Regions from separate parts of the Homo sapiens genome. Here all the other regions are reported to be linked to region 1. The links are microRNA targets in miRTarBase. Many come from high-throughput screens and were not tested one by one. Region 1 holds a microRNA gene; each other region holds the end of a gene's coding sequence.

Evidence for each region. The annotated mature microRNA hsa-miR-34a-5p reads UGGCAGUGUCUUAGCUGGUUGU and lies in region 1 at 3,574-3,595, opposite strand. An mRNA with a match to its seed (bases 2 to 7 or 8) in the 3' UTR can be bound and repressed. Matches are read on the target gene's strand: a 7mer-m8 pairs with bases 2 to 8, a 7mer-A1 pairs with bases 2 to 7 and ends in A, and an 8mer does both.
Region 2: miRTarBase lists MAGI1 as a target of hsa-miR-34a-5p. The part of its 3' UTR that is shown has no 7-base or 8-base seed match.
Region 3: miRTarBase lists S100P as a target of hsa-miR-34a-5p. The part of its 3' UTR that is shown has no 7-base or 8-base seed match.
Region 4: the mRNA of FUT8 is a reported target of hsa-miR-34a-5p. Seed matches in the 3' UTR shown: 8mer at 1,637-1,644.

What each region holds. Positions count from the first base shown.
Region 1 is chr1:9,148,162-9,155,777 of GRCh38, forward strand. MIR34A (microRNA 34a) reads right to left here and starts at 3,616; the gene lies at 3,507-3,616. MIR34AHG (MIR34A host gene) reads right to left here. Exons shown (of 2, transcript NR_132742.1): 2 at 1-3,674. RefSeq lists a silencer at 3,425-3,661.
Region 2 is chr3:65,349,980-65,357,595 of GRCh38, forward strand. It overlaps MAGI1 (membrane associated guanylate kinase, WW and PDZ domain containing 1), which reads right to left. Exons shown (of 23, transcript NM_001033057.2): 23 at 3,547-7,153. The coding sequence ends at 6,399. Among named protein-coding and RNA genes, the nearest start is that of LINC02040, 180 kb to the left of the region's middle.
Region 3 is chr4:6,695,589-6,702,935 of GRCh38, forward strand. S100P (S100 calcium binding protein P) reads left to right here. Exons shown (of 2, transcript NM_005980.3): 2 at 1,305-1,582. The coding sequence ends at 1,454. Among named protein-coding and RNA genes, the nearest start is that of S100P, 5.4 kb to the left of the region's middle. RefSeq lists an enhancer at 496-1,258.
Region 4 is chr14:65,741,070-65,748,685 of GRCh38, forward strand. FUT8 (fucosyltransferase 8) reads left to right here. Exons shown (of 11, transcript NM_001371533.1): 11 at 1,024-3,052. The coding sequence ends at 1,341. Among named protein-coding and RNA genes, the nearest start is that of MIR625, 270 kb to the left of the region's middle. RefSeq lists an enhancer at 4,235-5,196.

The sequences.
Region 1 (7,616 bases):
ATTAACACTGGTATTACTTTTAACTAAAGGCTTTTTTGGATTTTACCAGTTTTTTCACTCATGCCTTGTTTTGTTCCAAAATCCAACCCAGGATATCACACTGCATTTAATCAAATGTAAATACGTATGCTTTAACTTTTTTATTTTAAAATAATCATAGATTTACAGGAAATTGCAACAACAACAAAAAAAGTACAGAGATTCTGTGTACCCTTCCCCCAGTTTCGTTCAGTGGTAACTCCTTGTATAACTACACAATATCAAAACCATGAAATAGATATTGGCACAATCCATAGACAGTATTAAATATACATGCATATATATATATTTTTAAGTGAAAAATATTTTTAAACCTCGCTTTGCCTCACAGCCAAGAAGATCAAATACTTTCTCCAAAAACATAGAATTTGTATCTAACTCCACTCGCTCCAAACTCAAGTCCAACCATGAAATTATTGATCCCTCTCTCTAACCCTCCAACTACAGGCAAGAAGCTGCCCATACATTCCCCAAAGCAGGAGTGCACTCTGCCACAGGCCTAGATGCCGTCAACCTCCTGGACCTTGAACTCCCTAAATTAATGGCCTCTGTGTGAGTATGTGTAAGCAGCCCCTCTCTGTCCCAGTCCATCCTAAAATCACTCCCTTGGAGCCACCACTGCCCCTCTCATCTTCTAGAATTTCTAGAAAGATAAAGAGCTAGATAAGCATCTAGGTACCTTTCTTCTGCTGTTAGCTCTAAAGACAAGTGAATATATCCTAGCTAGGATGTACTCTAAGGAATGCAGAAGTAGGCCGAGTGCAGTGGCTCATTCCTGTAATCCCAGTGCTTTGGGAGGCCGAGGTGGGCGGATCACCTGAGGTCAGGAGTTTGAGTCCAGCCTGGTCAACATGGCAAAGCCCCGTCTCTACTAAAAATACAAAAATTAGCTGGGCGTGGTGGCGGGTGCCTGTAATCCCAGCTACTCGGGAGGCTGAGGCAGGAGAATCACTTGAACCCCCAAGGCAGAGGTTGCAGTGAGCTGAGATGGTACCACTGCCCATTTCAAAAAAAAAAAAAAAAGAATGCAGAAGTAAATTAAATGACCACAAAGAGTTTTTTTTAATTTGAGACAGGGTCTGGCTCTGTCACCTAGGCTGGAATACAGTGGCGCAATCTCAGCTCACTTCAATCTGTGCCTCCTGGGCTCAAGCCATCCCCTGACCTCAGCCTCCTGAGTAGCTGGGACTACAGTCCTGCCACTATGCCTGGCTAATTTTTGTATTTTTTGTAGAGATGTTGCCCAGGCTGGTCTGAAACTCCTGAGCTCAAGGGATCCATCCACCTGGGCCTCCCCAAGTGCTGGGATTACAGGCATGCGCCACCGTGCCCAACCCAGACATCACTTTTATCTGAAGCAACAACTATCTGCTCTTTCTGTTTCCTTACTAATTATCCAGGAACTTTTACAGGTGAACTCTGAGGAGGACAATTTTTATTGTTTTTATGTCAGCATAACTAAAAGTAAAGCTGGATAGGAAGAGGTTACTTGAAAATGATTTCACCTGAACTCAAATGAATAAGCTGGCTACTGCATAAAGCAACAGAGGGGTCCCTTTAATTTAAAAGCTCAGGACTCTGAATCAATTGCTGGTTGGGAGAAGGTAGAGACATTCTTTACTTCTGCCTAGAACTGGGGAAAATGGCGTAGACTTCTGCTCTGAAGCAGTCCTCAGTGCTGCTTCGGTCAGAACTCCCGAGAGGCATCTGAGTGCTGGCCTGTCACTGCGGCTGGCATTCCAGGCATTTCATTGGCCCCACTTCAGCCCACGCCTGGCTCCACGGGGCTGGGCAGCTGAGGGGAGTTTGTGGCAGAGTGGGCATGGGGCACGGCCCGTGCAATGTGCGTTACAAAGGGGCTCTCTCTGAAGCAAGTCCTCTGCACTCCAGTCTATTTGAGGAAGAAAAGGACAATTCCCATAGGGAGGGGGTTTGCTGAAGCAACCAGCTGCCTGGTTTCCTCTCCAGCATTGAGAGGGAGGGAGGGCTGGCTTAACTGGGGGACGGCCTTCTCATCTGGACTGTGTCAAGGCCAAGGTTAGGCTCCAAATTCCAGAAAACCTCTCTGCAGGGTCTTCTTTCAGAGTGGTGAGAATGGAAGCAGGCTCCCTTCCCCTCCAGCACTAGGAAGCCCCGCAATTGGTGAGGTGCAAAGAAAGATGGGCCCAGGCAGGGAGGCGGGAGCAGGGGAGGTGCCCAGGGCAGTGGCTGGAAGGGCAACGGGAGAAGCAGCAGAGGCTGGGGGTGGGGGTCGCAGCAGGTGCTGTCCCTGGCCTGTGTGAAAGGTACTAGAAGGCCCCATCCTTGGTGCCACATGGACCCCAGAGGCTTGTCTTAGTCCATGGGGTCCGAGGTGTAAGACACTTACGTTTGGCGTCACCTCTTAGGCTTGGATGAATTTCAGAAAGTGCTAGACTGGAGAACAGTGGAAAAAATCAGTGGAACAAGATCTGGAGCACTCACTGCTCAATGTCAATGTTAGAGAGCACAACGACACCAATGGGAGGAGGGTGAGGACCAGAGGCTGATTGCATGAGCTCTGTTGGAGTGCAGGACCCACTAACGGGTTATCTCAGGGTTCCTGGAGGCCACGGCTGTGCCTTGTGGTCCAAGACCTGGGGAAGCCACCACTGTGTCTTCCCTCTCCATCCTCCGGTGACTTTGGTCCAATTCCTGTTGCCATGGCAATCAGCCCAGCTGGCCTCACAGTTCACTGGCCTCAAAGTTGGCATCTGTAGGTGAAGCCAGTGGGACCCAGAGAACTTAATTCTTCTCAACTGAGCTGGCTTGGAGGAACTTTTCTCATCAGCCACTGGAGCAGAGAACGTCACCAGCGTCTCACTGACGTCAACATCCTGGGCCTGGCTCTAGCTGAAAAGGAAAATTCTCCCCAAGGCAGACACATCTCCCGAAGCCCACACAGGCACTTTCTATGATTGCACTGGAAATCTGTCTCCTGGGGACAGGGAGCGCGTACGCTCACAGTCAAGTCACAATGTTGAGCAGTCTCCAGGACTCCACGTTCATCTCTAAGAACAGGAGCCGGTGGTTGGGCGCAGATTCTTGAGCCAGATTGCTCGCGTTCAAAACCTGGTCCCTTTTTATTAATTGCATGCTTAGTTACATTTTCTGTTTGTACTTTTGTTTCCTTCTCTGCAAGACGGGGTTAATCACAGACACTTGTACATGATGTAATACACTTACAATACTTAGGACAGGCCTTCCTGCATAGTAAGTGCTCTGCAAACACTGGCTACTATTCTCCCTACGTGCAAACTTCTCCCAGCCAAAAGCCGCCCACACCAAGCCCCTGTGCCTTTTTCCTTCCGCACCCACGAGCAGGCTGCTCCTGGGGCCCTGGAGCTCACTTTCCCAGCCGCCCTCACCACCCACCGTGGCGCAGAAGAGCTTCCGAAGTCCTGGCGTCTCCCACTGGTCTGGGCATCTCTCGCTTCATCTTCCCTCTTGGGCCCCACAACGTGCAGCACTTCTAGGGCAGTATACTTGCTGATTGCTTCCTTACTATTGCTCACAACAACCAGCTAAGACACTGCCAAAGAAACACTCACAGCTGGCCGGTCCACGGCATCCGGAGGGGACTCGGGGGACAGGCCTGTCCTGCCTCTCCCCAGCACCTGTTGATAAGAAGGAAATGTGGGGAGGAAAGAAAGGATGCAGGAGGCCGAGGTGGGAGGATCGCTTCAGGCCAGGAGTTCAAGACCAGCCCAGGCAACTAGCAAGACTCCATCTCTACAAAAAAATTTTAAAAATTAGCCAGGCATGGTGACATGCGTGCCTGTAGTCCTAGCTACTGGAGAGGCCAGGGCAGGAGGATCGCTTGAGCCCAGGGGTTGAGGCTGCAGGGAGCTGTGATTGCGCCAGTCTGGGTGACAGGGTGAGACCCCGTCTCTAAAAATAAAAATTGGGTGATGGCTCACACCTGTAATCCCAGCAATTTTGGAGGCCAAGACAGGAGGATCACTTGAGGCGAGAAGTTCAAAACCAGCCTGGTTAACATAGCCAGACCACCACCTTCAGCAACTGTCTCTACAAAATGAAAATAAAAATAATGAAAGAGAGAGGATGGAGGAGAAGGCTGAGACCAGTAACAGATTCCAAAAGGACTAATTGACAAGGAGAAAAAGAGTCAGCACTTCCCTGGAAGAGAAAAAATTCGAAAAGGACAGTGGTTGAAAAGTCAGCATGTCTGCGTGAAAGGGAAGCAATGAAGTAGCGCCAACTCCTCCCCCGTCCCGGGCACCGTTTAGGGAGAGGATCAGAGTTCTGCCAGAGAATCAGAACCAGAAGGAGATATAGATTAAGTTTATTTCAAGGAATCGGCTTACGTGATTGTGGGGGCTGGCTAGGCAAGTCTGAAATCCAGAGGGCAGGCCAGCAGGCCGGAAGCTCCCCGGAGGAGCTGACACTGCAGTCCCCAGGCAGGATTTCTTCTTCTTCAGGGAAACCTCGGTTCTGCTCTTGAGGCCTTTCAACCGATTGCATGAGGCCCACCCACCTCGCAGAGGAGAACCTTTGACTTACAGCCAGTGATCATCAGTGCTGACCACATGTACAACGCACCTCACAGTAGCACCCAGGCAAGCGTTTGGTTGAATCATGGGTATCACAGCCTCGCTAAATTGACAAGGAAATTGCCCATCACAGGGTTTAAGATCTAGTGCTTTAAGATCTACTGACTTCTTGTTGTTTTGTTGTTGTTGTTTTTATAGAGATGGGTTCTTGCCATGTTGCCCAGGATGGTCTCAAACTCCTGGGCTCAAGTGATCCTTCCGCCTCGGCCTCCCAAAATACTGGGGTTATAGGCATGAACCACTATGCCAGGCCAAGATCTAGTGACTTTGGATACGGACCACCACGGAACAGTTCCTCTTCCATGTGGGTGTGGGGGCATGAAGGACTGTTTTCAGGAGGATCAAAGTCACCTCTACCCCAGCATGGGAAGTCCCAGAAACTTGAGTTCCAGGTAAGGTAGTGCAGAAAAAAGCAGGCTCATGAGCCAGTGCTGTCTCTCTCTGTGCAAGGGGGAAAGAGCCCCTCTGAGGCCTCCACACACAGTCAGCAGGACACAGGACACAGAGGTCAGCCTGTTGTGGCCACTGTGAAATGTCCCGTTGGAGTTGACAGGAGCCTGCTCTGACCTCAGTCCTCCTCCTCCAAACAGGTGACCCTGTAATGCTCTGGTTAAAAAGCAAGCCAGCTGGACTGTGTTATCTTTTAGTGTGGGAAAAATGCTCTTAGGCCGGGCGTGGTGGCTCACACCTGTAATCCCAGTACTTTGGGAGGCTGAGGTGGGTGGATCACTTGAGATCAGGAGTTCGAGATCAGCCTGGTCAACATGGTGAAACGCCATCTCTACTACCAAAAAAAAAAAAAAAATACAAAAATTAGCTAGGCATGGTGGCATGTGCCTGTAGTTCCAGGTACCTGGGAGGCTGAGGCAGGAGAGTTGCTTGAACCTGGGAGGCAGAGGTTGCAGATCACACCAGTGCACTCCAGCCTGGGTGACAGAGCGAGACTCTGTCTTAAAAAAAAAAAAAAAGCTCCTAATATGTCAGATTTTAACCCAAAGGTAAATTCCAGCAGGGCATGCTCATCAGCTAGAGCGGCAGGTCTCGGCTTCACTGTGTAAGCATCGGCTGGGGAGCTTTTGGTAAAATGCAGATTCCCAGGTTCAAACCTAGAAGTTCAGACTTGGCAGCTCTGGGATGATGCCAAAGGTACATCCTGCAGTTGCTGTGTCCCCAGGTCAGCGCAGAGACAAGCAAAAACTCAAAGCTTCCTCCCTCCCTCAACTCCCAGCCAAGACTGGACGGGGCAGGGGACCCCAGAATCCTGAAAACAGATAGCCACATGGAAACAGTGACCACAGCACACTTGAACTTTGTAAGCACAGCAGAAGCGTGTGGGATGGGCTGGCCCATCCAGAGATGGGGTGCAAGAGGCAGGAATCTGGCCTCATGGTGGCTCCTGGCTTCAGCCCCAGCACTGCCACCAGAGGGAGGGCCGTGTGTTTTCAGGGGTGGGCATGGCAGGGGTGTCAGGCAAACACTAACACAGTGAAGTGCAACTGCCAAGTCTTCCAGCCAGCCCGATCCTCAGGCTCGGAAACGGTCCCAGAGGAAAAGATGGTTCAGAAGAGAGAGAGAGTAAGATCCCGGGGACATCTGAGCCAAACCACACGCACTTTCCACTGCTCAGCAGCCCCTGTCCCAGACTTCCAAACAGAATTCCATTTTCTGAATCTAGACAGCCACCTGGGTGAAGGCATCTACCCATGAAGGCTGCTGCCCCAGGCACCAGAAGGACAGGAGGGGGCCCTTCCTCTTCCTCCTGAGTCAGGACCCTCAGATGGAGAAGAAAATCCTCCTAGTCAGAAAGAGGAGGCTCTGACTTTAGGGACAATCTTTCTAGTTAGAGAGAGGAGGTCTGAACTCTGTGGACAATCTTTCCAGTCAGAGAGAGAAGGCCTGGACTTCAGGGACAATTTTTTCTGGTTAGACAGAGGAGGTGGTGGTGGTAGTGCATGCCTGTAGTCCCAGCTACTCAAGAGGCCAGGGTGGGAGGATCACTTGAGCCCAGGAATTGAGGCTGCAGTGAGCCACTGCGCTCTAGCCTGGGTGACAGAGCAAGACCCTGTCTCTAAAAATAAAAATAAAAAATTGGATGGTGGCTCACATGCGTAATCCCAACACTTTGGGAGCCCAAGGGGGGAGAATCACTTGGGGACAGCCTTTCCAGTCAGAGAGAGGAGGCCTGGACTCTGAGGACAATCTTTCCAGTCAGAGAGAAGAGGCCTGGACGCTGAGGACAATCTTTCCAGTCAGAGAGAAGAGGCCTGGACTCTGAGGGCAATCTTTCCAATCAGAGAGAAGAGGCCTGAACTCTGAGGACAGTCTCTAGTCAGAGAGAGGAGGCCTGGACTCTGAGGACAGTCTTTCCAGTCACAGAGAGGAGGCCTGGACCCTGAGGACAGTCTTTCCAGTCAGAGAGAGGAGGCCTGGACTCTCAGGACAATCTTTCCAGTCAGAGAGAGGAGGTCTGGACTCTGAGGACAGGCTTTCCAGTCAGAGAGAGGAGGCCTGGACTCTCAGGACAGTCTTTCCAGTCAGAAAGAAGAGGCCTGGACTCTGAGGACAGTCTTTTCAGTCAGAGAGAAGAGGCCTGGACTCTGAGGGCAATCTTTCCAGTCAGAGGGAGGAGTCCTGGACTCTGAGGACAATCTTTTCAGTCAGAGAGAAGAGGCCTGGACTCTGAGGGCAGTCTTTCCAGTCAGAGAGAAGAGGCCTGGACTCTGAGGACAGTCTTTCCAGTCAGAGAGAGGAGGCCTGGACTCTGAGGACAATCTTTCCAGTCAGAGAGAAGAGGCCTGGACTCTGAGGGCAATCTTTCCAGTCAGAGGGAAGAGGCCTGGACTCTGAGGACAGTCTTTCCAGTCAGAGAGAGGAGGCCTGGACTCTGAGGACAGTCTTTCCAGTCAGAGAGAGGAGGCCTGGACTCTCAGGACAATCTTTCCAGTCAGAGAGAGGAGGTCTGGACTCTGAGGACAGGCTTTCCAG
Region 2 (7,616 bases), not on the chromosome of region 1:
TAAGGTAAAGGAACAGTTCATAACATAGTAAGGGCTAATGGCCCATTTTTTCATAAAAACTATATATACGTACACATATACCCATACAGTTATACACACACACACACACACACACACACACACAGAAAGACTAGAAATGTCACGAATCAAGCTGCTAATAACAGTTATTTCTGTGGATTGGGATTGACAGGTGTAAGGAAGAATGTCACTTTTTATACTTTCCTGAAATGCTTGAATCTTTTATTGTAAATATGCATTTGTAAATATGCATTCGTATTGTAAATATGAATTCGTTTTGTAAATAAAAACTGCTTTTAAAAATGGGGTATCATAGGATTGAGTGGTTTCTTTCTTCACACTCAAACATGGGGAATGGCTAGCAAAGACTGGATAATACATAGACAGGCTTCTGTAACTTGAGAAAGATGTGGTCAACTTAAAAAAAATGAAAATAAGATTAGGTTTGAAACAAGGATCTGGAAAAAAAAAAAAGGCTAGTAAGGTGGGAATTTGTAAACCTGTAGAAAACCCAGTAGAATAGTAAATGATGGACCTTACCTAACAGAAGAAATTGGGTACAAAGTGTTCTGCACGTATTAATTAAGGTATAGGGAAGAGAAGCTGAAGGATTTAGGTTGGAAATAAAATGAACTCTTTTAGTAAGAGGAAGGTAAACATGGGCTTGGGGACTTCTGAACTTTGAGAACTGCATGGTACAGGAGGGGTTTTCGTGGTAACAATTGCTGCCCTGGACAGCCCCGGTGGCTAACTGGATTCTTTCCACCTCTCTCCAAGTCCGCTCTCCCATGGTGCTGTGAGGCCATCTTTCTCAAACTTAAACCTGAGCTGGTCACCTCTCCCTCCCCGAACACACACACAGCTCGCCGGAGGCCCTGTTAAAACTCTTCAGTGGTCTTCTGTTATTCTGAAGTCTACAATCTGGAACAAGTCCAGCCTGGCACAACCCTTATTCCCTTCACAATGCAACCCTTCCCTTCTAGACCACACTCCCTTGCACTTGGGCCTTTGCTCAGCCTGCACTTTGTTCCTTCTTTCACTGATTAGCTTCCTCTTCCTTCTGGCCTCACTTGAATTATAACCTTCTTCAATCTGGCTAAATTTCCTATTAGTTGCTATCAGAGGACCCCGTGCTTCTGCTTGGTATGCAGTTTGCAAGCATTTGTCTTCTCCCCACCAACTACGAGCACTTGAGACCAGGAACCAGGCATTTCTAGCCCCCACCATGTACCTGGCACAGAGCTGATCTTCAATAAATGTGTTGAGGAAATGAGAAATAGAGTAGCAAGCCTTGCCTATTACACATGCAGGAATGAACAGCCTTTCTGAGATATTTTCCCTTCAATTCCACAATCTTATGAGACCAAAGAGAATTTATTCTCTGAGGGATAAATATAAAGTACAGCACTTAATGGAGTGGTGTTTAGAGCTCTCAGCTGTGAAGACCATGCCTTTATTCCCTCCAGAGACATGACAATAAAGACTTTTCAGTTAGGTGGAAAGGTGATGCAGTCAAGGGTAGCAGTCGCATGCAATACTTGAGTATTTACTGTATAATTCAACAGTTATCACTACTTTGCTTAAATCCATGTACTTGCAAAGAGATCTTGTGCTTTGGATCCATTGGACACCTAATAACTACACTAATGAAGTAAAGCCACACTCCTCTTGCCTCTGACAATGACCACAATGCATAAAGACATCACTTAGGGGTGGGAGGGAGTAGTCAAACAATTTTCACAGAAGATCCACTCCTGCAAAAAATACCCTAAATCATTGTGTTGGAGAGGGCATTTCCCTTCACATAAGCTTCTAATGATTTGTATTGCCAAAGCACTTGGATCTCACTGTGCTAAACATCCACGATGCTGATGGTGTTGCCTCAAAGGAGAAATCGCTTGGAGGAACTTGAAAGGGCTTTTCCTTTTATGATTAATGCAGGCCACCAAAGGTGGTCTCGGATTGCCCCCAGCTGGAAAAATCCTGACGGCATAATTGAGTCTCTGCACATTTGGTGTGGCTGTTTATGGCAGGCAAAGAACTTGCATGACATAAGGGCTTTACAAACAGCTTCAACTGTTGGTTAAGCCAGGGACCACTTTGAGATGCCATCTTTTATAAAGGAGATACTAGGGAAGTGAGCAGAGTTCATAATTACCATCCTGGTGACAAAGCAAAATACAGCAAAGGAGATGGGTTGGAGGAAGGCCTACTATTCAACAAAATGCCTTTTGAACGCCCAGGAGATTAGGTTCTGGAGGAAAACCCCAAACACTAAGTCATAAAAAGGAACAACCAAAAACTGTGTGAAGGAAACTGGAAAGTTATTCAACACTACCTGATCCACCCCCACGAACGTTAGGTCACTTGAGAATGGTTAACTTTCGTATCTAGTGTGACTTGGGAGTATATCTAATTCCACACACATCTACCTCCTGAAGTTAGACTTAGAGATGACTTTGTCTCAGTTTTCACAGCACAGCATTTTGGTTTCATATTCCTCAGCAATGGTTAAGTGTAGTATTTTGTTGAATAGTATGTACTATACTATTCATAATTAAAAGGCCTTCTTCCCCATTTTAATAGAGTGAGAAAATAATTTTTTCTTACAGGCACGGTGGCTCATGCCTGTAATCCCAGCACTTTGGGAGGCTGAGTTGGGCAGATTGCTTGAGCCCAGGCATTTGTGACCGGCCTGGGCAAAAGGGCAAAACCCCATTTCTATAAAAATACCAAAAATTATTTGGGCATGGTGGCATGCCCCTCCAGTCCCAGTTACTCGGGAGGTTGAGCAGGGAGGATCACTTGAACCTGGGAGGTTGAGGCTGCAGTGAGCTGCGATCATGCCACTGCACTCCAGCCTGGGCGTCAGAGTGAGACCCTGTCTCAAAAAAAAAAAAAAAAAAAAAAAAAGTTTTTTTCATTTATTTTGATTGGAAAATAAACCAGGACAACAAAAAGAGTAGAGTACTCATTGCCACGCAGAAATCTTCCTCAATTAAAAAAAAAAAAAAAGTTCGTGTCATTTACTGAGGACTCTTCTGATTGCCAAAGATGTGTATCTATTCTTAGCTCTGTGAAGTATGTCCTTTTACAGATGAGGAAATGGAGGCTTCAGAGGAGGTTAAGGAATGTGCCCAAGAATCACACCAGAAGTGATGAAGCTCTTAGCTTGGCAGGATTTGTTTTATTATCAGGGTTCTGTGCTATACTGTGCTGTGCTGTTTAAACTTTCATGTGCATAAGGCATAGCTGAGGATCTTATTAACTGTACATTCTGACTCAGTAGGTCTGGAGTAGGGCTGAGAATCTGCATTTCTAACAAGCTCCTCAGTGATGATGAGGCAGCTGGTCCACAGACCACACTTTGAGTAGCAAGGCACTATGCTATTGCAATGGCATAGATCCTGCTCTTTCAACACAACGGCATTTCATCAAGTTGGAGTCAGGGGCCCTCAATTGATTACTTGACCCTGATACATTTGAGACAACATAGAGACAAGGAAGATATCAATCCAGAAGCAATAGTGGTTGTGGAATGCATACATTTCCATGTATTTTTACAGTAAAAATGCATTAAAAAATCTTTCACAAAAGAAACTTAAAAAATACAATTAGGGTGTTGAGTCCTCCCCCCCAACATTCTTTCAGGCATCAACTGTGTAACGGAGGGAGACAAATTCCTAAATCGTTTGATTTCATCATACAAAATACTCATCCATTATCTCTCATCAAGACATTTACATTAAGTGGGGGAGGGGGGCGGCGGGATTAAGGAAAGTAGGCTCACAAGAATCAGTTTCCAATTTAAGGTTACAGCAGTTCAAAGAAAACTATATCTTTCTGCATAATGCATAGTCCCTGTACAGTACAATATTTCCAAACAAATCTGATGTGTGGAATTCAGGTGAAACTGCCACACCAAAAAGTCCACGGATTGAGACAAGCCCAGGTGGGTAGCACATAGATTTTAAATTGCCAAATATCATCTTACAACAAGAAGGACATCAAGATGTTAACTTCAGGATATATTCCCAAAATCCACCTTGATTTCATTTATTTAAAACTCTGGATCACAATTGAGAGCATCAGTCATTTAACATCACAGATTTTGTTAGAACTAGTGAGAAGAATCCTAGCAGTGGAGCCCTGGGAATAAAATCTCCAAGTCAGCTCTTAGGAACTTGATGAAAAAGAACATCATTATTCAGTTGTACTCTTCCTCAGCCTTACTACAGCTCAATGTATGCTTTGTATGGAAAACTTTAATAATAAAAATAGCATTCACAGACTTTTCCCTCCTTTTTAGCTACAGAATGTATATTGTGTCTGTTCCAGGAAAGGAACTTGTTTTATAAATGTCCACACAACTACAGCTACTCATTCTAATGTTATGTATAAACCCATAAGTCAAATAAAGCTATGAACAATGTAATATTTATATATGCATAGTGTTTTATAAAAAGATTGGCCCACATACTGCTTTTCATCAATACAGAAAGAGCATTAAGTCCATAGCACACTGCAAGAAATAAATGAGTGAAGAACAGAGAATGCAAACAAGTGCTTAATAATTCACAAGCAGGCTCACCATGGAGGAAATGATGATATTCAAACCAACTAAAGCTTTAGAGAATTACTTATATAGTCTCCCATTTTAAAACAACTTTACATACCTGATTTAGTTTACATTAAAATATATCCCCATGAATCAATTTGTTCCATATTCAGAAATATAAACACGTATCACATTCCTCACAGCTAAATTTTGTCATAAATTCTCTTTTATACAAGAAAAAAAGGCAACAGTTGTTTTCTTTTTTTTCCCAACAGGCTCTATTAATTACAATTTTTAGCTCTGTACACGCAATGATTGGCTGGTTTTCTTTTTTTTTTTCTTTTTCCTTTTTTTTTTTCTTACAGTACCATGGGAACAACAGTGATTGACTTGCAAAGTTTTCTGTCTCTATGGAAAATGCAAAACAGTACTACAGAAATACACAATGCACTGTAAGCAGCGGTTTGCTGTAGTGGTCCAACAGGTACAAGCAAACATTTTGGCTCAGCTAGGCAGTAATCCACTTAAACCACATCCCGGGGCTACGGCCGACCCAACCACAGCTCCTGTGGGATCAAAAAGAATGGGTCTGTTTAAAAATAAAAATTGTTATGTTTTGTGCTGCTGTCCAAAGGACTCAAAGGACAGAGTCATGAGGCAGAAGTTTCCCAACCAGACCTAGAATCACTGGGACCACTTCCTTCCTTTCCCTTCTACCAACCTAGAGACTTGGACTATGGTTTCAAAGTGAAATTGGCATTTCTAACAATGAATACCCACAGCCCTCACTTCTTTAAATATCAACAGAGAGGTTCCTTCCACCAAGGCTCATTGCCTCCTCCCCAGTTTGGCAAAGGGCAACCATGGGCTTCTACTAAAAGGGAGGGGGGCATGCTTTCCAAATTGGGGATCTTACGTCTTCCTCACACCAGGCACACTGTCCCCCCATTCCATCTACTATTCAGCCTCCAATCAGACGAGACAACACGAAAGATGCTTGTTGTCTCTTCCTCGTAGTAATTGAGCAAAGCTGTGATGGCATTGCCTTCAATGAGATTTTATCAGATGTTGGTGATGATCACGAACCTGACTGTCTGTGCTTGGGCTGTATTTGAGTAAAAGTGGCCGACATTTTTGTCTGTGTGCCTTCCTGGGCCAGGGAGAGTACAAACTGTTTTCTGAACCAACTATAACTCACAATATAAAACTTCTTTGTGCTGCGCAGTTTAGCTATAAATATCCTTCATTTGCAATAGTAGTCTTGTCATACAGTTTGCTTACTTTTAGGATCATCGGCAAACCTAATCCATCCCCAAGGGTCCTCAGCTTTTACAAATAAAACTTTGCATTTTTGCTCTTTGCTTTTAAGAAAAACTTCCGACTACAGTATAGCACTACATCACTACATGACAGTCTATATCAAATTAATTAAACTTAATCAATAAATTCCCTTACGTAGAGAAAATGATCAACAGCCCCATTTAACCAGGAGAGAAAAAGATTGCCCCAAAACGGGAACAATTCTTGACGATTCTACAGGTTACGTAGAAACAAAATTTATATCCCTTTGGGCCAGCATTTGGCAAATAATTTCCAAAAAAGTATGCATTTAAAAATACTTTCTTTAATATGATACATCAGGCACAATACTTTTCATATATATTTTTTCTTATAAGATTTCAAATGCATAAAATGTTTGTTGTTATTCATAGGATCATCAGGTGTCAGATGCTTCATTAGGTAAGAAACTAAATAATTTCAGGTTTGTGACTTTCCTCTTAGAACCTTTGACACGGTAAAGGTTGGAATGTGACTCAGCGTCTCAGATACTGAGGTCGGTGCTACATTCTTTGTAAGGTCGCCTTCTCTGCTCCGGGGGATGTCTGGAACTTCTGCCGGCATCCTGTTTCAGATTCGCCTCTTCCCTTTCTCGGTGGCTGGCTCTGTCCTCTCTGTTCCTTTTGTCCAGGGACCGCTCTCTCCTGCGCTCGGGGGAGCGTGCGCGCCTCCGGTCGGTGGACTTGGCCCTGCGCTCGGGCGAGCCCCCTCTCCTGCGCTCGGGGGACCTCCTCTGCTCCAGGAGTCTCTCCAGAGACCGTCTCCGCCGGCTGGGGGAGCCGTCTCTCCTGCGGGTGGGTGACCGCTCTCGCCTCCGCTCCGGAGAGACGTCTCGTCTCTTCTCGTGCTTCTCCCTCCTCTCCAAAGTGTTGTCGGCGCTGCGGGTGCCCTCCCTCCGCTTCTCTGGGGACCGCCTCTTGGGGCCGTTGGCGGCTGCCGCGCGCTCGGCCTGCGCGTCCCTCCGTCCCTCCGGCGCCCGGTCCTTGGGTCGGCATGCCCCGCTGTCGGGTTTCCTCGAAGTCCCATTCCAGGTGTGGTGTTCATTGGGTTGTCTGCTATACTCTCTGCTGCCTTTCGGATCCCTTGCGTGTGCCCGCTTTTCCCCATGTGGTGATGATTTGTGAAGATCGGGTGGGTAACTGGACTCCAATGACGGATGCTGCCGGCGGTCGGGCCCGGCCCTCACTTCCGGAACACCTTGTGGACCGGTGGCGGGGCCGTGGCGGTCGCTGCTGGGGTCTGCCAGGAAAATAAACGAGAGCAACAGTTGGGTACGAAGGTCCCTCGGCTCCTGTCCCCGTTCCCACCCACACTCGAGACCTCATTAGTCACAACAAGCAAACAACTGTTAAAGCAGTCAGACTCAAAGCCAACTGAATCTGTTAACTTAAGGATAACTGCACGTAGTTAGGGTTAAAAACTAGTACTTGTGGCTTTCAGCGTCTGGCTGACTGAATGTTCTCCATACCCGAGACATAGATCATTAAAGAACTGACAAAAATCAGTCATGATTTGAGTCTTTAAAGGCACAATCCAAATAGTCTGTCTAGAGGCATCAAAATTTCCTCTCTGTAGCTATCCCTTGTTCTTCCTTTCCCACCCCCCCAACCCTTTTCCCCTGTGCCCACCCGTCTCCCACACCCAAGAAAATATTCTTTGCTTTAAAGAATACTTGTTTTGATTTACTTAAAAATAATTTAGG
Region 3 (7,347 bases), not on the chromosome of region 1:
ATGAGGACTTTGATCCAAGATACTGGGGTGTGGGGAGGGGCAGGCACAGGTGTCCTGGGAACACACTTTGAGAAGCAATGGCAAAGCTGGGGGTCCAGCTAATGTGTTACATTAGAATCACCTCGGGGAGGCCCTGGGTGCCCTTCTCAGCCCTCCCTCCGGAGGCTGCTGAAGCCCAGCAAAGCCGGAGTCAGAGAACAATGTCCGCCTGAGGGCAGGGCTGGGCTGGGCTGGCCTTCTGGCCCTATCTGCTCCGTGCCCAACCCAGCGCCCCGCACAGTCGGAGCTTTGTAAATACGAGGTGACTGTCTGCCTACAAACTTTGTAAACATCACTTGAAATGGCCGCAGGGTATTGTGACATGGCCATACCACTATTTGTTTGCTATTGAATTTGTACTTCCCTGCCTTACTTTTGCTATTGCAAACCATGCTGTCACTAAGGTCTTCATGCACACAGTTGTGTCTTGGTCAGATGATATGTTTCTACCAATTTTAATTGTGTTTCTTTCCACCTGGACACACAGCTCTCTGGCCCAGGGCTGGGTCATCAGCACACCCTGCTGCTGCTGTTCAGATCTGCATCCTGGTCCCGCTTGGTCCCACAGTGAGAACGCTTTGCTATCACATGGGCAGGCTCTGAGAGCCCTGCCGGCCTGGCCTTCTCAAAGAAGACCTGAGAGCTTGGGACCCAAGCAGAGAGGAAGAACAGGGCTCAGGGTGCTTGCTCCATGCTCGCTCCACACCTGGGGCTCAACCCTGGCTTTCCCCGGCTCCCTGTGTGACTTCAGGGCAGGTCCCTTGGGCCCTCTGGGCCTTATCATCTTCATCTGTAACAGGGCGATGCCTCTGCCGTGTCTGGTGGTGTTGAGGAGTTCCTGTTTGTGTAAGCAGCTAGTTCAGTGCCAGCACGAGATGGGAGGCCCATGAAGTTAGCAGTGCACAAAAAATAGAGCAAAGACTGGATGCATTTCCTGAGAACAACCATCACTGTAAAGCACTTTACAAATCCAAAGACAACCCCCGGCAAAAACTCAAAATGAAACTCCCTCTCGCAGAGCACAATTCCAATTCGCTCTAAAAACATTACAAGTTAGTTCATGTCATGCCAGATAGCTGAAGGCAGCTCACAAGTTCTTAAGGCCAGGAATGCCATGTGTCTGCTATGCACAGCTGGCCCTGGCCCTGACAGCAAAGGTGACGCAGATGTGGGTGCCCTGCTCCTGCCCAGCAGCAGTGCTTGGTGGAGGCTGAGGCCCTGCACAGGCACCCTCACTGCTGACCTTGAGCCTCTCTCTCCTCTAGAGTGGAAAAGACAAGGATGCCGTGGATAAATTGCTCAAGGACCTGGACGCCAATGGAGATGCCCAGGTGGACTTCAGTGAGTTCATAGTGTTCGTGGCTGCAATCACGTCTGCCTGTCACAAGTACTTTGAGAAGGCAGGACTCAAATGATGCCCTGGAGATGTCACAGATTCCTGGCAGAGCCATGGTCCCAGGCTTCCCAAAAGTGTTTGTTGGCAATTATTCCCCTAGGCTGAGCCTGCTCATGTACCTCTGATTAATAAATGCTTATGAAATGATCCTGGTCTCAGAGAAACTGGTTATTTCCTTAAAACCTCAGTGTCCTCTCCCCACAAAACAGAATTCACTAATTAAACTTGTCATTTCATTACTCATTGCCTGCCTGCAGTGGTGAGACAGATGAAGAAGACAAGGCAGTCGATAAAAATCCATTTGTTGGCCATCTTCTGAGTGCCCACTGAGACACAGTCCCACCTTTGGCCGTGTGAATGCCACCATGTCCTGGACCCAAGGGAGGCTCGGGTACACACATCCATGTATTTATTCATCTACTTCGTAATTCATTTAGTCGGTCACGTAGCCACTCATTGAACCTGGGCCCCTCCATCTCTCCAAACAGCATGTTTTCTTCAAGTAACATACTTCTAATATTTATTTATTTTTGAGACGGAGTCTCGCTCTTGTCACCCAGGCTGGAATGCAATGGCGCCATCTCAGCTCACTGCAACCTCCGCCTCTTGGGTTCAAGTGATTCTCCTGCCTCAGCCTCCCGAGTACCTGGGACTGCAGGCACCCGCAAAACCACACCTGGCTACTTTTTGTATTTTTAGTAGAGACGGGGTGTCACCATGTTGGCCAGGCTGGTCTCGAACTCCTGATTTCAGGTGATCTGCCCACCTCAACCTCCCAAAGTGCTGGGATTACAGGTGTGAGCCACTGCGCCTCGCAAAGTAACATATCTTTTTTTCTTTTTTTTTTTTTTTGAGACGGAGTCTCACTGTGTTGCCCAGGCTGGAGTGCAATGGTGCGATCTTGGCTCACTGCCAGCTCCGCCTCCCAGGTTCACGCCATTCTCCTGCCTCAACCTCCTGAGTAGCTGGGACTACAGGTGCCCACCACCACGCCCGGCTAATTTTTTGTATTTTTAGTAGAGACAGGGTTTCACCGTGTTAGCCAGGATGGTCTCGATCTCCTGAGCTCGTGATCCACCCACCTCGGCCTCCCAAAGTGCTGGGATTACAGGCTTCAGCCACCACGCCCAGACAGTAACATACTTTTAATGATGCAATGCTATTTTTGCCACAAAGACTATGAAACACCATAACAGAGAAACAATGAATTCCAAGAGAGCATTAGAATCATCAGTGAACAACTGCTCACATCACCTGTATTTAGTTTTACGACACTAATGTTGGGAGCACCCAAAAGGACTCAAGCGAGGTCTTGGATGATAGGTAGGTAACTGGATCTGGTTTTAGGACCCCTATCATTTTTTGGATACCCAGTATTTAAAGCCTCTTGCTATGTTTGAAGACATTTTCACTAGAGAAGATCTATCACCAAAAGATCCTGAACTTGGAGGTGGACACAACAATACGAGGCTTGGGTGGATCCCTCTTTGGGGAAGGGACTGCAGATTGCAAATATTTTTGCTAGAGAGAGAGTCGTGTTAGGTTAGATGGGAGCAGATACACACATTTAAATAAAGTAAAAACTAATAATGAGGGAGAAGTAAAGTTAATAATGGGGGAAACAAAAGGGGTGGACTGCCAGAATGGAAATCTTTGTTTCTTTTTTCCTTTGAGAGACGGCCTTGCCCTGTCACCCAGTCTGGAATGCAGTGGTGCTATCGTGGCTCACTGCAATCTTTTTTTTTTTTTTGAGACGGAGTCTTGCTCTGTCGGCCAGGCTGGAGTGCAGTGGTGTGATCTCAGCTCACTGCAAGCTCCACCTCCCGGGTTCACGCCATTCTCCTGCCTCAGCCTCCCGAGTAGCTGGGACTACAGGTGCCTGCTACCAAGCCTGGCTAATTTTTTGTAATTTTTAGTAGAGACAGGGTTTCACCATTTTAGCCAGGATGGTCTCGAGGCTCACTGCAATCTTAAACTCCTGGGCTGAAGCAATCTTCCTGCCTCAGCCTCCCAAGTAGCTGGGACCACAAGAACGCACCATCGCGGCTGGCTAATTTTTTGTAGAGACGGGGTTTTGCTATATTGCCCAGGTTGGTCTTGAACTCCTGGGCTCAAATGATCCTCCCAACTCAGCCTCCCAAAGTGTAGATGTTAGAGGCGTGAGCCACATGCTCAGCCTGTTTTTCTTTTTTCTTGCTGTTTAACAAATTAGTTACCGTCCTATAAATGACAAACCACCCAGCTTATCAGTTCTGGGGGGAGGCAGAGCCCTCACTCCCCAGCCTCTGTCATAGCTGGGGTGCAGGCACCTGACCTGGGCTCTCCCAGACTTTATTCTCACCCCAGACTTGCAATCGGACAATTGACACAAACAGGCAGAGACCTGAAAAACCTCTTATGGGTTTTGCAGCAGCGCCATATGAGAGGTTTCTGGCTACGTAGCTATGAACCTCGTCCTCCAGGACTCTTGAAGGAGACAAGTCTTTTGTAAATCAATCACCTAGGCTGAATTTCTGTGCTTTGTGACTAAAAACCCAGACTACTGGAGCAGGAAAACAACAGCGTGCCACTTCCTCTGGGTGTCCTTCCTGGGTTATCTCTGACAGGTCTTGGTAATTCCTGACCTCTCCTTATAGAGACAACAGGGCCCATCCCTCCTCAATCTTTCTTTCATCTCTCCTCAATCTTTCATTCATTTCATCCTAGCTTCTTGCCCTGCACCAAATGGTAGATTACGTCTGGTTTGGAATTCAATTCCCTGCCCCAGGAGACCAGCCTCCCATGGTGCTCCATCATTGATTTCTGTTCAGGGTCTTCTGAGCAGCCTGCAGATGCCTCGTTCCTGGAGGTAAAGTCCACAGTCACTTCTCCGGAGTTTATACCAACTCTGCATGAAGCAAAAGCCAGGTCCAAACAGTAGGGTTTGTTGTTGTTGTTGTTTTTTGTTTTTTGTTTTTTTGAGACAGGGTCTCACTCTGTTGCCCAGGCTCAAGTGCAGTGGCATGATCACAGCTCACTACAGTCTTGATCTCCTGGGCTCAAGTGATCCCCCCACCTTAGCCTCCTGAGTAGCTAGTACTACAGGCATGTGCCACCACACCTGGCTAATTGTTTTTTATTTTTTTGTGGAGACAGGGATCTCACTATGTTGCCCAGGCTGATCTGGTACTCCTGAGCTCAAGCGATCTTCTCACCTCAGCTTCCCCAAATGCTGGGATTACAGGTGTGAATCAGTGCACCCAGCCCCTAAACAGTATTTTTTAATGGCTACAAGGAATTTATTGGAATGAGGGTACCATCGTTTGCTCATTGTTAAAGATACTGTTCTTCATATTTTTGTAGAATGTATGTTCCTATTTTTGTTTTTAGAAAGTATGCTACAATTAACATTTTCATGTATAAAGCTTTGTCTTTTGGGGTTTTTTTTTTTTTTGTAAGATGGGGTCTTACCATGTTGCCCCGGCTGGTCTCAAACTCCTGGCCTCAAGTAACACTCTTGCCTTAGCCTCAAAAGTGTTGGGATCACAGGCGTGAGCCACTGTGCGTGGCCAAAGCTTTGTCTTAAGCTCAGATAATTTCTCAAAATCAAATTCCATTTTTTACCTAGGATGACTGGATCAAAGGGTAATTTTTTATTGTGGTGTCAACATAAAATGTACCATCCTAACCATTTCCAAGTGTACAGTTCGGCAGTGTTAGGTATACTCACGTTGTGGTGCAGGTCAGTCTCCAGAACTCTTTCCATCTTGTAAAACCACAACTCTATCCCCACTAAACCCTCACTCTCCCTCTCCTTCTCTGGCCGCTGGTCCTGACGATTCCACTTTGTTTCTATGAATTTGACTCTAGGAACGTCATATGACTGCAATCACACAGGATTTGTCCTTTTGGGACAGGCTTATTTCACTCAGAATCATGTCCTCAACGTTCATCCGTGTTGTAACATGTGTCAGAATTTCTTCCTTTATAAGGCTGAATAGTCCACTACGTGTATACACCAAACTTGCTAATTGCTAATTCATCTTGCTAATTCATCTGCTGATGGACAGTTGGGTTACTGCCAGAATTTTTATTTATTATTATTATTATTATTATTATTATTATTATTATTATTATTATTTTGAGACGGAGTCTCGCTCCTTCGCCCAGGCTGCAGTGCAATGGCGGGATCTCGGCTCACTGCAACCTCTGCCTCCCGGGTTCAAGTGATTCTCCTGCCTCAGCCTCCCGAGTAGCTGGGATTACAGGCGCCCGCCACCACACCCGGCTAATTTTAGTATTTTTAGTAGAGACGGAGTTTCACCATATTGGCCAGGCTTGTCTCAAACCCCTGACCTCAGCTGATCCGCCCGCCTCAGCCTCCCAAAGTGCTGGGATTACCGGCGTGAGCCACCGCGCCCGGCCTATAATTCTTTTTTAAACAAAACATTTAACCAAGTGTTTCTCCACTGCCCTGCTTGGAAACCAATAGGCAGCCAGTCTCCTTTGTGATGCTTTCCTGTAGGAGCGGCAGCCACCTGAGGCTCTCCTGGCTCTTGGGCTCTCGCAAGCGCCCCCTGCAGCTGCTTTGCAGAATTGCTCCTCGGGCTAAGCTCCCTCGGTTACCTAGCCAGCGCATTTCCACCCCTCCAGAATGTCAGATGTTTGGGTGCTGGGATTGCCATGGCCTACCTAACTGCTCAACAAGCACAATTCTTTTTTTCTTTTTTTTTGAGACCGAATCTCACTCTGCAGCCCAAGCTGGTGTGCAGTGGCGCAATCTCGGCTCACCGCAACCTCTACCTCCAGGTTCAAACGATTCTCCTGCCTCAGCCTCCAGAGTAGCTGGGACTACAGGTGCCCGCCAGCACACCCTGCTAATTTTTTGTATTTTAGTAGAGACGGGTTTCACCATGTTGCCCAGGGTGGTCTCGAACTCAACTCCTGAGCTCAGGCTATCCGCCTGCCTCAGCCTCCCAAACCGCTGGGATTACAGGTGTGGGCCACCACGCCTGGCCAACAATTCTGAATTAAAATTTGAAACGTACAGAAATAACAAACTTACGGAAAAGTTAGAAGTACAGTACAAATAACTATTTTTCTGAATGATTTAAGAATAAGCTGATGCACCACCCCTCAATGCATTAGTGGAGAGAATCCTCCACAGAAGATTCTCCTAATAACCACAATGCCACCATCAAAGTGAGAAAATTAACACTGATACATCACTACCATTGAATCTTAAGCCCTCATTCAAGTTTGCCAATTGTTCTATGTCTTTTTTTTTTTTTTTGCGATGGAGTCTCACTCTGTTGCCAAACTGGAGTGCATTGGCGTGATCTCAGCTCACTGCAACCTCCGCCTCCCAGGTTCAAGCGATTCTCCTGCCTCAGCCTCCTGGGTAGCTGGGATTACAGGCATCCACCACCATGCCCGGCTAATTTTTGTATTTTTAGTAGAGATGGGGTTTCACTATGTTGGCCAGGCTGGTCTCCAACTCCTGACCTCAAGTGATCTGTCTGCCTCAGCCTCCCACAGTGCTAGGATTACAGGTGTAAGCCACCAGGCCTGGCCACTTTTTAATAAGTATTTTTAGAGAGGAATTTTGAAACTATGTATATATTCTGTTCCTCATCAAGCATTTAATTTATTCATGTATTCACATTTGTGAACTCCTGGTTACCCATATTATTCAGTGGGTTGTAACCTGTTACTAGCATTATCTGTTCTGATGCTCACATTGTCCCTGATCTGATCAATGGGAGCCCATTTCAGCTGGCTTCTATTACCCTCTGACATGTTCTCAACATTCTCTGAACACATCCTTGCCTTCTGTCATCACAAGATGTTCTAGACACATTTCGTACTTTGCTTGCCCTAGCTCTGGAACTGGCCATTTCTCCAAGCAGCCCTAGTTTCTTGTAATGGAAAAT
Region 4 (7,616 bases), not on the chromosome of region 1:
ATTGTTCTCTTTTCACAATGTATAAATTGCTTAAATTGGGTGATAGTTTAGTTTAACTTTATTACTAAGCATTAACCTCAAGGATTGAAGCTCAGATTGTGGAATTTCACCTGCTATCCAGTGAGCAGAGAGGGTATTCTTTGGACATAGGGACCTTTTAAGTAGCCTTAAAACTATAGTAATCAGGGTGATGCATTTCCTCAAAGGCTTGCCCAGTTTATGTCATCCAAGCATGCCACTCTCTACACAGCACACTTAAAACTTTTTAGAACAGAAATTGCCGATGTGTTTTAGCTCACTTGCCAGTGCTTGTTGATTGTCAGTAATTACATGAATCTCTCTTGAAAACAGTTCTGGGAGCGGGGAGGGATAGCATTTGGAGATATACCTAATGTTAAATGACGAGTTACTGGGTGCAGCACACCAACATGGCACATGTATACATATGTAACTAACCTGCACGTTGTGCACGTGTACCCTAAAACTTAAAGTATAATTTAAAAAAAAAGAAAACAGTTCTGACACCAAGTTATAAATTAGCAGATGAGAATGTGTGATTGATTAACAGTGTATGAAGGAAAGGGACCATCAGCATTTATTTGTGTTAAGTTTTTTTATCCTAATCCTAAACTTCAAATTCTTTAAGGGCACAAACTATGTCTTACTCATTTTGGTATCATGAGTGCCTAGCTTGGACCACTGTGTATGTAGCTCTTAATAAATGTTTGTTAAAATTAACTAATTCATATTCTTAAATTCTTTTGTACTATATAGAGATAGAGAGATTTTAATTGTAATAATCTTTCGTGAGTTTTTCTTCTTTATTTGAAAAAGGATCCAGACACAGAGATGAAGAATGACTTGTACCATCTTCTGAGAACAAATGGACTGAAAGCTTGTGACTAGAATCCACTACTTTTCAACCTCTTACTCCTAGAGCCCATCCTTTTGGCCAAGGGCTTTTAGATTGCTGTGAAGGAGAGTGTTTATATACTAACAATTTCTTTTAAATTCTTTCCCAAGGTCTGTCGAGTTGCTTATGAAATTATGCAAACACTACATCCTGATGCCTCTGCAAACTTCCATTCTTTAGATGACATCTACTATTTTGGGGGCCAGAATGCCCACAATCAAATTGCCATTTATGCTCACCAACCCCGAACTGCAGATGAAATTCCCATGGAACCTGGAGATATCATTGGTGTGGCTGGAAATCATTGGGATGGCTATTCTAAAGGTGTCAACAGGAAATTGGGAAGGACGGGCCTATATCCCTCCTACAAAGTTCGAGAGAAGATAGAAACGGTCAAGTACCCCACATATCCTGAGGCTGAGAAATAAAGCTCAGATGGAAGAGATAAACGACCAAACTCAGTTCGACCAAACTCAGTTCAAACCATTTCAGCCAAACTGTAGATGAAGAGGGCTCTGATCTAACAAAATAAGGTTATATGAGTAGATACTCTCAGCACCAAGAGCAGCTGGGAACTGACATAGGCTTCAATTGGTGGAATTCCTCTTTAACAAGGGCTGCAATGCCCTCATACCCATGCACAGTACAATAATGTACTCACATATAACATGCAAACAGGTTGTTTTCTACTTTGCCCCTTTCAGTATGTCCCCATAAGACAAACACTGCCATATTGTGTAATTTAAGTGACACAGACATTTTGTGTGAGACTTAAAACATGGTGCCTATATCTGAGAGACCTGTGTGAACTATTGAGAAGATCGGAACAGCTCCTTACTCTGAGGAAGTTGATTCTTATTTGATGGTGGTATTGTGACCACTGAATTCACTCCAGTCAACAGATTCAGAATGAGAATGGACGTTTGGTTTTTTTTTGTTTTTGTTTTTGTTTTTTCCTTTATAAGGTTGTCTGTTTTTTTTTTTTTAAATAATTGCATCAGTTCATTGACCTCATCATTAATAAGTGAAGAATACATCAGAAAATAAAATATTCACTCTCCATTAGAAAATTTTGTAAAACAATGCCATGAACAAATTCTTTAGTACTCAATGTTTCTGGACATTCTCTTTGATAACAAAAAATAAATTTTAAAAAGGAATTTTGTAAAGTTTCTAGAATTTTATATCATTGGATGATATGTTGATCAGCCTTATGTGGAAGAACTGTGATAAAAAGAGGAGCTTTTTAGTTTTTCAGCTTATTTACTTTGTTTTTTTTCCTGTTTCTGATATAGTAACTAATTCTTAACTCAGAGACATTGGTCCATTTTAATACTGAAAACCAATTTTCATTGGTACACATTACAAAATTGCTAAGAACACTGTTTGGGAGCTTTCATTCTCATATTTTGGACATTGTTTTAATTGAGTGAAATAATCATAACTCCTTGCTCCCAGAGAAGCTATCACCTCCATTTCTAAAACCATTTCAGGTTTGTTTGGTAGTCTTTCTTAATGTATTTATTATCGCTTTTTGTGAGTAGGGTCCTGTTTTATCCAGGAACCAATTTCTGCCCTAGCCTATCATGCCCTGCTTTTGAGAGTACCAGGTATCTTTGGGATTGGGAAGCTGGCTGTTTCAGAAGTATATGTCTCATAGTGTGCAGAACTTGGTGACCAAGTGAGAAGCGGGACCAATGGGAGACTCACAATGGACTGAGTCTTGGGATTATCTTTTCCAAATTCTTCCATGTTAGAATCACTTCAGAAAATAAGACTTTGATGCTTTGTCTCTGAGCATCATTTTTCTCCTCATAAAAACACTTCCTTATTGTATGTAGCCTGCCTCCTACAGAGGCCTGGTAGGTGTTACTGCATTCTAAAAGAAAAATGTCATCTCTGTAGGAGCGACTATCAGGCCTAGTGTGAAATATTAGGGATCCTAGGCAGAAGAGCTATTAGTCCTGGCCTTCATATCTTCACCAAATGAAAATACTGTATATAAAATTTCACCACCAAACTTAACTAAATTCTTTTTCTCAAGTCAAGCCTCCCAAAGAAAAAAGAAATTAACTTCCTACAGTGTCAGCAAGCAATTTTCCATTTAGTTTTGGTACAAATAAAAGTCATTTGAAACAATCTCCAACTGAGCGGAGGTAATTTTGATTATGAGTTATTTTGCAACTCGCATCTCACATGTCATTGGAACATCAGTAACTGTGGATCTGATTTGTGCCCTTATAGAAGATCCAAAGGTAAATTAAGTTAGTCTCTTTTCCTTCTAAATTGACCGAGTTCCAGGGGTGAAAGGACCAAAGAACAGAGATACGAAGGAAATAAATTAAGGAGTATTTCCCAAAGGGAGTCTTCAACTGAAGAGTTAATTTTTGACATTTTATCATTTGGTTCTAGAATTTCTCCCTAATTCTTTATATTTCTCTACTGAGATTTTTTTATTCACTACATGCATGTTTTCATTGAACATAACTATGTAGTGAATAAAACTATGAACCTTGAACATAACAGATGAACATAACTATGAACATAACCGAACAAAACATTGAACATAACTATATAGTGAATAAAAAAATTATTTGTTCTCAGTAGAGAACACATAAATAAAAAAATTATGTGTTCTCAGTAGAGAACACATAACTATGTTCAATGAGTTTAAATTATGCTTTAAAATTCTTTTCTGGTAAATTTGACATCTGGATAATCTTAGAATTGGTCTCCATTGTTCCTCTTTACAGAATGGTCAGATTTTGGGGGGAGGTCCCTCATATATTGAGTGATTTAGATTGTGTCCTGAACATTGTAATGTTTATGTTGTAGATTCTGTTATATTGCTCTGAAAAGTGCTGTGATATATACATATACACACATAAATATACATATACACAAAAATATATATATACAACATTTGTGTATTACATTTGTGTGTATATATAGACACACAAATATATATATACAAATATATACACACACAAATATATATATATTGTGTATGTGTGTGTGTATATATATATATTGCTTGTGTTAGCAGGCATTTAACTTTATTGGACTCAAACTGTAAACTCTCTTGGGCAGCAGCTGAAAATCTCAATTCAGTTAGCTGGAGTCTATGCTGCACATAGTTCAGGGCTTAGCCAGAGAGATGGATAGAATTTATGCACAGAATTTGTGGTGCTTTTTCTTTGGCTCTCTTTCTTCTGAGATTTCCCCCCTCATTTTCCAGCAGCTGTGGTTGCTCTGATTCTTAGACCAGAAAAACTGCAGTTTTCTTTCAGCCCAAAAGCTGTACAATGGGAAACTCACCTTGTGCCATTCCCTTCTTTAAAATTTCAATCTCTTTTCAGAACTTGCCTGTTTTTATTGTCTCCTACCCTCATGTATTTTTTGTATTTTTTTGAGAGTTTATGGTTGTTATTCGTTGGAATATTGGTTCAGTGGGTGCTTACTCCACCATTAACTTAAAATGAAAAAACAGCAGGGGAGAGGACAGGTTTAGTCTTGTGAAACCCCTGTTGAGACTTTGGCCTCAATAGCCAAGTAGCCAGTAGCCTTACGTAAGAAGATGAAGAAGTAACCAAACTGTTAAACCTGCTCTTGTGAAGGGCTAATGAATACTGTTGACCACATCTTTCTAAATCGCCTTTGTAATCATCACATACATGATGGTGATTCATTCAATACATGTTGCCGTGTTGAGAAGGCTGACATTTTTCTTACCACTATTGTAATTTCTCCATAAAGCCCTGGTACTTAAAAAATCCTGCATGATTTTGAATTGAGTGGCCAGTGCTAGGTTAGGATTTGGGTCTTTTCCTTGTTGAAAGACCTATTTCTGAGAGACTTGCCTGGAATTAAATTATTATCGTGGGCTCATTGAATGTGGGTAACAAAATCCTGCTTATTAATGACAAAGCAATTACGAAAGATCTCACCAAGGCTTTCCTAGTTCTTCCACTCAAGTCTGATTTAGTGCTCAGCTGGGCGCTTAACGAATTCATGCCTGTTGTGAAAGCCCTAATCCAGGATTTCATTGTACCTAAATGAGTAAGAGACTAGTTCCTTTTCTGTTCAAGCTTTAGGTTTTTGTTGTTGTTGTTATATAGAGGCAATCCTGTTTACTGGGTTCCCTCTTTGTAAAGTTGAGAAGATGAACAGCCCCAGCTTCTAAGGGAGTTGAGAGTTAAAAGAGAAAAAAAAGCACATTTTAAAAGCTACCTCATACAATGATTATTGTCATTATTATTTGGTTCTGAGAGGATACAGTCACTGTGTATTCGGTGAGCAGGAAAAGTGTTGGGGTCTAAACGGTGCATCTAGAAGAGTCTCTTCTGCCTCAGTGAGAGCAAATCTCTCAGGGGAAAAAGACAAGTCTCCTTTGGCCATAGCCAATTGCCCGATACTTCATTTATGCTCTCAGGAGACTGTGCATTAGGTTCCATAGACCTGCACAGAATAGACATGTGGCTTGAGGATTGGTGAAATTGACAACTTGGCTACAATACCCTAATTTATGTCAGATACAGACTGTATGGAATTTTTAAAGTGTGCTGCTCAGAAAGGAGCACAAAAAATTTGCCTCTATACTTACTGGTTCCTAGCACCAGTCTCTCTCATGGACACATGGAAGAGCTGTTCCAGGATCACAGGCCTTGGAAAGTTTGGGCTTTGAGTTCCTGGCTAGTCTTACCTCCCTATTAATTTGCATAAGAATTTCTGGCCCAGTAAGGAGATAGAACATAGTGAGTGCAGGGACAGAAGACCTAGTTTTCAGTTTTGTTTTTCCTCCTCATAGTGCCTACAAGCACGTAATATCCCTGTATTTCGGGTTCTTTAGGGAAAAAGCAACAGTTCTCATTGAAGATCACTGACTGAAATTCAGAATATCTGGCTTCTGATTTTGATATTGTCATTAAATGGGGACAGGCCAAACGGTTTTCTCAGAACTTTGTTTTCTTCATAAGTGAAATGAATTGGTTGGATTTATTCAGGGTTTGCAAATTTGGTTGACTGGTTCAGTTTCACATGTCTCAAGGAAGTAGCTTCTACTCAGCCTCAGCTGATTGTTGTTCTAAGGACATAATGTGGACAGATATTTCTGTTTTTCCAGACAAGCAAAATGTGGATCTTTCTGTGCAAGATCTTCAGATTTTGAAGTATCAGCAACTAATTAAAAAATATGTAAAACACTAAGGAGTCCAAATAAATATCTGTGGCTCCTTTGGGCCCATGGCCCATTAGTTTATAACCTCTGGACTAGATTGGGAAAGCTCTTTTCTAACTTCAAGATTATATCTCTAGCTAAAAGTAGATCTACCATTCGATCCAGCAATCCCACTACTGGGTATCTGCCCAAAGGAAAAGAAGTCATTATATGAAAAACACACTTGTACACGTACGTTTATAGCAGTTCACAATTGCAAAGATGTGGAACCAACTTAAGTGCCCATCGACTAATGAGTGGATAAAGAAATTGTGGTATGTATACACCATGGAATATTACTTAGCCATTAAAAAGAACAAAATAATGTCTTTTGCAGCAACTTGGATGGAGCTGGAGGCCATTATTCTAAGTGAAGTAACACAGGAGTGGAAAACCAAAAACGATATAGTCTCACTTAATAGTGGGAGCTAAGTTATTCCCCTACATTGAAAGTTATTCCCCTACGGGGAATAACTTTCATCTCCTGATTCTTCAAGTTGTCGATTAGTATGGAAGGGCATACAGAGTGATATAATGGACTTTAGAGACTCAGAAAGAGGAGGGTGGGAGGGGAGTTGGGATAAAAAACTGCATATTAGGTACAATGTACACTACTTTGGTGATGAATCCACTAAAATCTCAGAATTCACCACTATATAATTCATCCATGTAACAATAAACCACTGGACCCTAAAAGCTATTGAGATAAAAATTAAAGCAAATTGATATGTGCGGTAAATATAAATTATGCATCAGGTTGGTTAGTATAAAAGTATAAAGAAAAAATGTAAAGTATATTTTGGGTACATTGGGTTAAATAACATTATTAAAATTACCCATTAAAATTTTTTTTAAATAAAACTAAGATTATATCTCTGGAAAGGATTGGTAAGAGAGTAACAGCTGCATAATGCTTTCAAGTTCAGATGCTGCACGTGTCCCAATTCCTCAGAAATACCTGCTTAGCTGGCTGTCATCCTGGGCTCAGAATAGCCCATTCGTAGCATATTCATAGCATATTCATGACAATATGCTATGAAGCTCGTAGGCTGGGCCCCTCAGACTTGGCCTTGAAGACCTCAAGTATGTAACAAGGGTTAGATAACTTCTAAGTTCTCTTCCAGCCCTAAATTTCTAAGAAGGTCATGGTAGAGCCTGAGATTGTAACAAGGTCATATGTGGTACCAGGGTGCACCTGCCTGGGTTAGGAACCTGGGTGGCTGGATCTGGTTGCAAGAGGAACAAGGGTCATTTTGTTAGAGCAGCTGACTATGTCTTTGCCTAGACCTCTGTTAAAATAGAGTAACTTAATTCCTGACTTAATTAACAGGCTGTTCAAACTCACCTGTTTATATTTAGAAACTCCTTTTGTTGTTGTTTTCTTTCCCACCTTTTGTTTCCTGGTAAAGTTTCATTCATAGAATCACAGCTTTGTTTCAGCTAAACTAAGAGAATAGGGATTTGTGGGCATAAAAGCCCAGAGAAATG